Linked DNA regions of Homo sapiens: region 1 is reported to be linked to region 2. Evidence: microRNA targets listed by miRTarBase, many of them from high-throughput screens and not tested one by one. Region 2 holds a microRNA gene; the other region holds the end of a gene's coding sequence.

Region 1 (3,337 bases), not on the chromosome of region 2:
TGGTTGTAACATGTATGAATAGGAATTCATATCCCTAATCCACAAAGCTCTCAGACGCTAATAAAAGATGACTATATCAATATACAAATACACAACACAGAGGCAATGCAGAAAAGAAAAATGTAAATTGCCAATAAACATGAAACTTTTAACTCTCACTAGCAATTAATGAACATTTTAAAATAAGCAAACAAGAAGACATCACTCTCAGTTAACAAATTGTCAAAAATGGTACAGGTTAACAAGGAGGTGCTGAAACCAATACTCAGGTTCTTTTGGTGGAATTCAAACCAGTGTAATTTTTCTAGAAGGCAGTCTGGCTCAAGGAGATAATTAGGTAGGAGTGCAATTGTGTAATACAGGGGTTGTGATTCCAGACTTTTTAATAATATATATAAAAAACTACTCACAACTTGAGTATCCATCACTAAAGGCCCGTTTAAAGATTATTCTATGGGACGGGTGTGGTGGCTCATGCCTGTAATCCCATCACTTTGGGAGGCCGAGGCAGGTGGATCACCTGAGATCAGGAGTTTGAGACCAGCCTGGACAACATGGTGAAACCCCAGCTCTCCTAAAAATACAAAAATTAGGTGAGGCTGGGTGTGGTGGCTCACGCCTGTAATCCCAGCACTTTGGGAGGCCGAGGCAGGCGGATCACCTGAGGTCAGGAGTTCGAGACTGGCCTGATCAATATGGTGAAAGCCCATCTCTACTGAAAATACAAAAATTAGCCGGCTTTGGTGGCGGGCGCCTGTAGTCCCAGCTACTCGGGAGGCTGAGACAGGAGAATCACTTTGAACCCGGGAGGCAGAGGTTGCTGTGAGCCGAGATCACACCACTGCACTCCAGCCTGGGCGAAAGAGGGAGACTCCATCTCAAAAAAAAAAAAAAAAATTATGTGGGCGTGGTGGTACATGCCTGTAATCCCAGCTACTCAGTTGGCTGAGGTTGGAGAATCGCTTGAACCCAGGAAGTGGAGGTTGCAGTGAGCTGAGATCACGCCATTGCACTCCAGCCTGGGTGACAAGAGTGAGACTCAGTCCCAAGAAAAAAAAAAAAAAATTCTTCTGTGAAGTGCTGTGAGCACGAGAATGCCGGCTGACAGCCACCACTGCTGCCATCACCATCCACCTCCCTCCAGGGGCTTCATTCTTCACTTCATCGAGCTGCCTCCCCGTCCCTTGTCCCTACCCCTTGCCCTGCTTCTGCAGGAGGTAACCCTGCTGAGGGTCGGGGAGCAGGGCTGCAGGCACAGGGAAACTTCCTTCCCACTAAATGGGTAGCAGGGATGGGACAGGGAAGAGGAGTTGGAAGAGAGGAGAGAGATGAAAGAGGGAGGGGAAAAAAACCAAGAATAAAAATCATATCTAGAGGCACATGAAAAAATAAAAATTAAATATTAAAAAAATCAGGCCTGGCGCAGTGGCTCACACCTGTAATCCCAGCACTTTGGGAGGCTGAGGCAGGTGGATCATTCGAGGTCAGGAGTTCAAGACCAACCTGGCCAACATGGTGAAACCCCGTCTCTACTAAAAATACAAAAAATTAGCCGGGCACGGTGGCACACCCTGTAATCCCAGCTACTCGGGAGGCTTAGGCAGGAGAATTGTTTGAACGCGGGAGGCGGAGGTTGCAGTGAGCCGAGATCACTCCATTGCATTCCAGCTTGGGCAACAAGAGCAAAACTCCGTCTCAAAAAAGAAAAAAAAATTTAATTTAAAAAAGTTTTCTATGAACCCTCCAATAAGAGAGGTAAGCATACATATAAATAAGTGAATTGTGAGTAAAATAAGTGCATAATAAGCAATATCGCATAAAAATTGTACCATGAACTAGGCTCCATGCTGTTTCTTTTGAGAGGGTTCAGACCAAGGCGTTTCCCAGAAGAGGCAGGTCCCTTCCTGGGAATGACCCCTCATCAGCCTCAGACGGTTTCGTCTTAGAAAAGTTTGCCCTAAATCAAATGGTTTCTTCTCTATCAGAAACCACATATGTTAAAATGTGCCGCTGATTTAAAAGTTGAAGGCAGATGTTGAAGACTTCTACAGGCAAAACTAATCAAATCTGATTGATGTATTTTTTATAAGACATTGGAGAGCATTCCTTGATGTTGAGATTTGCACAGGTTTGTTGGAAGTGGGATAGACTAGAGTTAAGGGAACCTATGCGACAATAAGTCAGAAAATACGGGGTCAGAAAAAGCCAAGTGTCTGCTGGAATGGAAAGGAGGGGACACTCTGAAGAGATATTTCGGCTGGGCTCAGTGGCTCACACCTGTAATCCCAGCACTTTGGGAGGCCGAGGCGGGCAGATCACGAGGTCAGGAGATTGAGACCATCCTGGCTAACATGGTGAAACTCCGTCTCTACTAAAAATACAAAAACAAAATTAGCCGGGCGTGGTGGCGGGCACCTGTAGTCCCAGCTACTCGGGAGGCTGAGGCGGGAGAATGGCGTGAACCCAGGAGGTGGAGCTTGCAGTGAGTCGAGATTGTGCCACTGGACTCCAGCCTGGGCGACAGAGCAAGACTCTGTCTCAAAAAAAAAAAAAAAAAAAAAAAAAAGGTATTTCTAGGACAGAATAAACAAAAGTCAGTGACTGATTGAGATGGCGGGGTGGGCAATGGGGAAGGGATGTATAGGTAGACTCTTAAGTCAGAAGCCTTACTGAAATCAGCCAGAAAGAGCTGGGATCTTCTTCAATCGTGATCTCAATTAATGAAGGCCCTCACCTCCTAGCCCTTCAATCATCTCCACTCACCAGCAACTGTCTTCATCAATATCACCCTTCAGCAGGCAGCTCCACCGAGGCATCTTGCCCTGTCTCTTCCAGTAGCTCACCTCCCCAGACTTCCTCCACTAATCACCCCAGTGAGAATTCACCATGATCTCCCATTTTTAAATTTCTAATCGCTGAGCTGACCCTCACCATGCATCTGCTTCACCCATAGATGGAAAGGAAGCCACCCCATTTTCTTGTCTTTTCACGAGGGCCGCAGGCTGGGGATCACCTTGGTGGTACTTGTTTGACCTCAGTTCCAGGACTTGGATGGCTCAAGGCTGAGGGGGAGCATGGGAGGGGGTGGGGGGCAGGGCAGATGGCCGGCAGGGGCTGGGTGCAAGGTAGGGTACCAGTCCTCAGACTGGTGTGACAAAGCAAAGGCGCCTCCTGTGGAGGGCTGGGAAGGGAGGGCATGGCTGTAGGGGTGAGGGAAGCAGGTCACTGGTGGTGGTGGTGCTGCGTAAGAATAGGGGCAAGCAGTGGACTCTGGCAAGAAGCTGGAAAAGGCGGCAGGAGACAGATGGGCCAGAGGCTGAAGCAGTGAGCGCTCTTG
Region 2 (3,414 bases):
GACTAGAATTTATTCTTCTTTGTGTTGCTAAATTTTTATACATATTAGGCAGTCATTTAATTTATTCACTTGGGGGTGATGATTATATTTAACCGCTTGCATCCTACGAGTTCAGGGAGAAAACTTCCGGGTTAACTTTGGGTGGAGTAAAGAATGAAAGTGGAATATGATTAAGAAAGGGAAGCAAATGCTTTCTAAAATTAAACTTCAATTCCTAAGAAGTAGGTGCAAGATTAAATCACCTTGCGAAATAGTATGAGAGTTTCTTCCAACTAAAATTAGAGATCTTGTGGAAATTAAAAATCGGTTTCATATTTGTTCAGTCAAGCATTCAATTGAATAATTACCAAGTAATGAAAATATTAAAATATATTCACTTTTGAAGTGAGGATGTTTTGCATAAATGATGTACAAGTGTGAATTCAAATATATAATAACTATGGTAAACATCAAAACCACTAGTTGATGTCTCAAAGTTGAGAGAGGTATTGTATTGATAAATAAATGTGTAATATGATTTACTAATTAGCACATCAATTAATAACTTAGAGCTAGAAATGTATTTGTTTGAAAGTTTCTTTTTAGTGCTGATACCTTATCTGTTAGTTCAGTTATCCTGTTATTTTAGTTACAGTATCAGCAAATGTTTAAGATACCTTTATGCTTATTACTAACTTTATGATAACTTTATGCTTATTACTAACTTTAAGATAACTTTGGCCAGGTGCAGTGGCTCACGCCTGTAATACCAGCACTTTGGGAGGCTGAGGCGGGTGGATCCCGAGGTCAGGAGTTCAAGACCAGCCTGGTCAAGATGGTGAAACCCCGTCTATACTAAAAATACAAAAATTAGCTGGGCATGGTGTGGGCACTTGTAGTCCCAGCTACTCAGGAGGCTGAGGCAGAGAATTGCTTGAACCCAGGAGGTGGAGGTTGCAGTGAGCTGAGATCACGCCACTGGACTCTAGCCTGAGTGACAGAGCAAAACTCCATCTCAAAAAGAAAAAAAAAAGATAACTTAATGCTTATTACTAACCATTATTTTCTTTGTGTGGTAGTTAAATAAACTTTAAAAAAATCATTTAATTACCACACAAAGAATACCACCAAAACTTTAAAAAGGTTATTTAGGTTATTACCTGCTCCAGACTTTGTGGAGCAGGTAATATGATTTCCGTCTTGCAGGAAAGGAAGTGACATTCAGGCACAGGTTACATACACATTGGAGGTCACAAAGCATAGGTATTAACAGAATGTGGCTCATTCACCCTGTCTTCAGGTGGAAGGTGAAGCTAGTTTGGGGAGTACTGGTTTTTAAATCATATATTAGAGTAGCAAAACGCATGTGAAATGTATCAATGCCTACATTCATCCCTTTAGCAACGTTGACTTTATCTGGTTCTTTAATCAGTTTCCACTAAGAAATGGATAAGGCATAGCTGCTGAAAGTCTTCTTCAGTAGGCTGAGTTGAAGATATTGAGACAGTTTTAGTTCTGGGAGCACAGCATGCTGCCCATCTAGCTCTCCCATTAGCTTTTTCTCCTCCATTTATTTTTATTTTTATTTTTGAGACAGAGTCTCACTCTGTCACCCCGGCTGGAGTGCAGTGGTGTGATCTCCACTCACTGCAACCTCTGCCTCCCAGGTTCAAGCAATTCTCCTGCCTCAGCCTCCCAAGTAGCTGGGATTACAGGTGCCCGCCAGCTCCCCGGCCGATTTTTTTGTATTTTTAGTAGAAATGGGGTTTCATTATGTTGGCCAGGCTGATCTCGAATTCCTGACCTCAGTTGATCCATCCGCCTCAGCCTCCCAAAGTGCTGGGATTACAGGCGTGAGCCACCGTGCCCTGCCCTAATAATGTTTAGTGTGGCAGGTTTGGAACATCATGTATTCTTTCTTTTTAATAAATTCTACTTGTAGATTCAGAGATACATGTACACGGTTGTTACATACCTAGGTAAATTGCATGTTGCTGAGGTTTGGGATATAAATGATCCATCCCATCAACCAGGCAGTGAGCATAGAACCCAGTAGCTAGTTTTCCAAACTTTGTTACCCTCCATTCCTCCCCCATCTCATAGTCCCCAGTTTCTGTTGTTGCCATCTTTGTGTCCATGAGTACTCGGTATTTAGCTCCCACTTAGAAGTGAGAACATGGCTATTTGGCTTTCTGTTCTGCATTAATTCGCTTAGGATAATGGCCTCTAGTTGCATCCATGTTGCTGCAAAGGACATGATGATTTCATTTTTTTTTATGGCGGCATAATCATGCATTCTTTTCATTAGGTACCTCTCTTTGATAATGTAATCCGTTGTGACAACTGTTCAAGTTTTAAGGTGTAGCTTTATTAGCTGATAATGGGGGAAAGGGTTGTTTCAAAGAAGTATATTTGCTTTATCAACATTCTAAGTATTGGAATGATCCAACGATAAGAAAACAATAGACACCCATCGTGTCTTTTGCTCTGCAGTCAGTAAATATTTTTTTGTGAATGTGTAGCAAAAGACAGAATGGTGGTCCATTGAATCCCCAGGATGAAGACATGAGGAGACGTGGGAGGGATGCTATCTGCTGGGAATAGCTATAATAGTCCACTTTAACTTTTCCTTTTCCTCGAAGGAAGTCCATCAGCTGAACCTGGAAAAAGCTGTGTGTCACTAAATCCTGGAAAAAATGCTAAATGGGAAAATCTGGAATGTGTTCAGAAACTGGGCTATATTTGCAAAAAGGGCAACACCACTTTAAATTCTTTTGTTATTCCCTCAGGTAAGTGATCTATGGGATCTGAAGTGCCTCAACTATTAGAATTGAAAGATAAGTAACATTACAGCTTAGGTGTAACTGTTGGAATGCCGCCAGAGGTTTTGTGGATAGTTGATGGGGTAAACTTAATGATATTACTGCAATATTTCTGTGTGCTGGTTGCTAGTATTTCCTGAGTGTGCGGCGGTGTCTGGGCATTGTGGAGATCCTCTGACCTAAATAAAAATGTTACCTTCCCAATCAGTCCTCTGAGGTAGGTGTCATGATTCACATGCTATAGTTGAGGAAAAAGATATTCAGAGGATACAGAAACCTTGCAGACATGGCAAAACCGGAATCCAAGCTAGAAAGTCAACATTTGGAAGGGATGTTTATATTAGGTCCTCACGGCTCTATCTGGGCTTCCTTGCTATTCAGTGTAGCGTCTTATACTAAAGTTTTCATAAAATAGAATAAAATATCTAAAAAGTTGTAACTGAATTTTATTTATTTATTGAGACAGAGTCTCATTCTGTCACCCAGGCTGGAGTACAATGGCGCGATCTCAGCTCACTGCAAACTTCGCCTCCTGGGTTCGTGATTCTCCTGCCTCAGCCTCCCGAGTAGTTGGGATTACAGATGTGTGCCATCACGCCCAGCTAATTTTTGT

What was found. Region 2 holds the annotated microRNA hsa-miR-511-5p (GUGUCUUUUGCUCUGCAGUCA, at 2,455-2,475, shown strand). A microRNA usually pairs through its seed, bases 2 to 8, with sites in the 3' UTR of a target mRNA and lowers its output. Matches are read on the target gene's strand: a 7mer-m8 pairs with bases 2 to 8, a 7mer-A1 pairs with bases 2 to 7 and ends in A, and an 8mer does both.
Region 1: miRTarBase lists PROP1 as a target of hsa-miR-511-5p. Seed matches in the 3' UTR shown: 8mer at 2,979-2,986.

Annotation. Positions count from the first base shown.
Region 1 is chr5:177,989,675-177,993,011 of GRCh38, forward strand. PROP1 (PROP paired-like homeobox 1) reads right to left here. Exons shown (of 3, transcript NM_006261.5): 3 at 2,561-3,337. The coding sequence ends at 3,035. Among named protein-coding and RNA genes, the nearest start is that of PROP1, 4.9 kb to the right of the region's middle.
Region 2 is chr10:17,842,668-17,846,081 of GRCh38, forward strand. MIR511 (microRNA 511) reads left to right here and starts at 2,440; the gene lies at 2,440-2,526. It overlaps MRC1 (mannose receptor C-type 1), which reads left to right. Exons shown (of 30, transcript NM_002438.4): 6 at 2,622-2,768.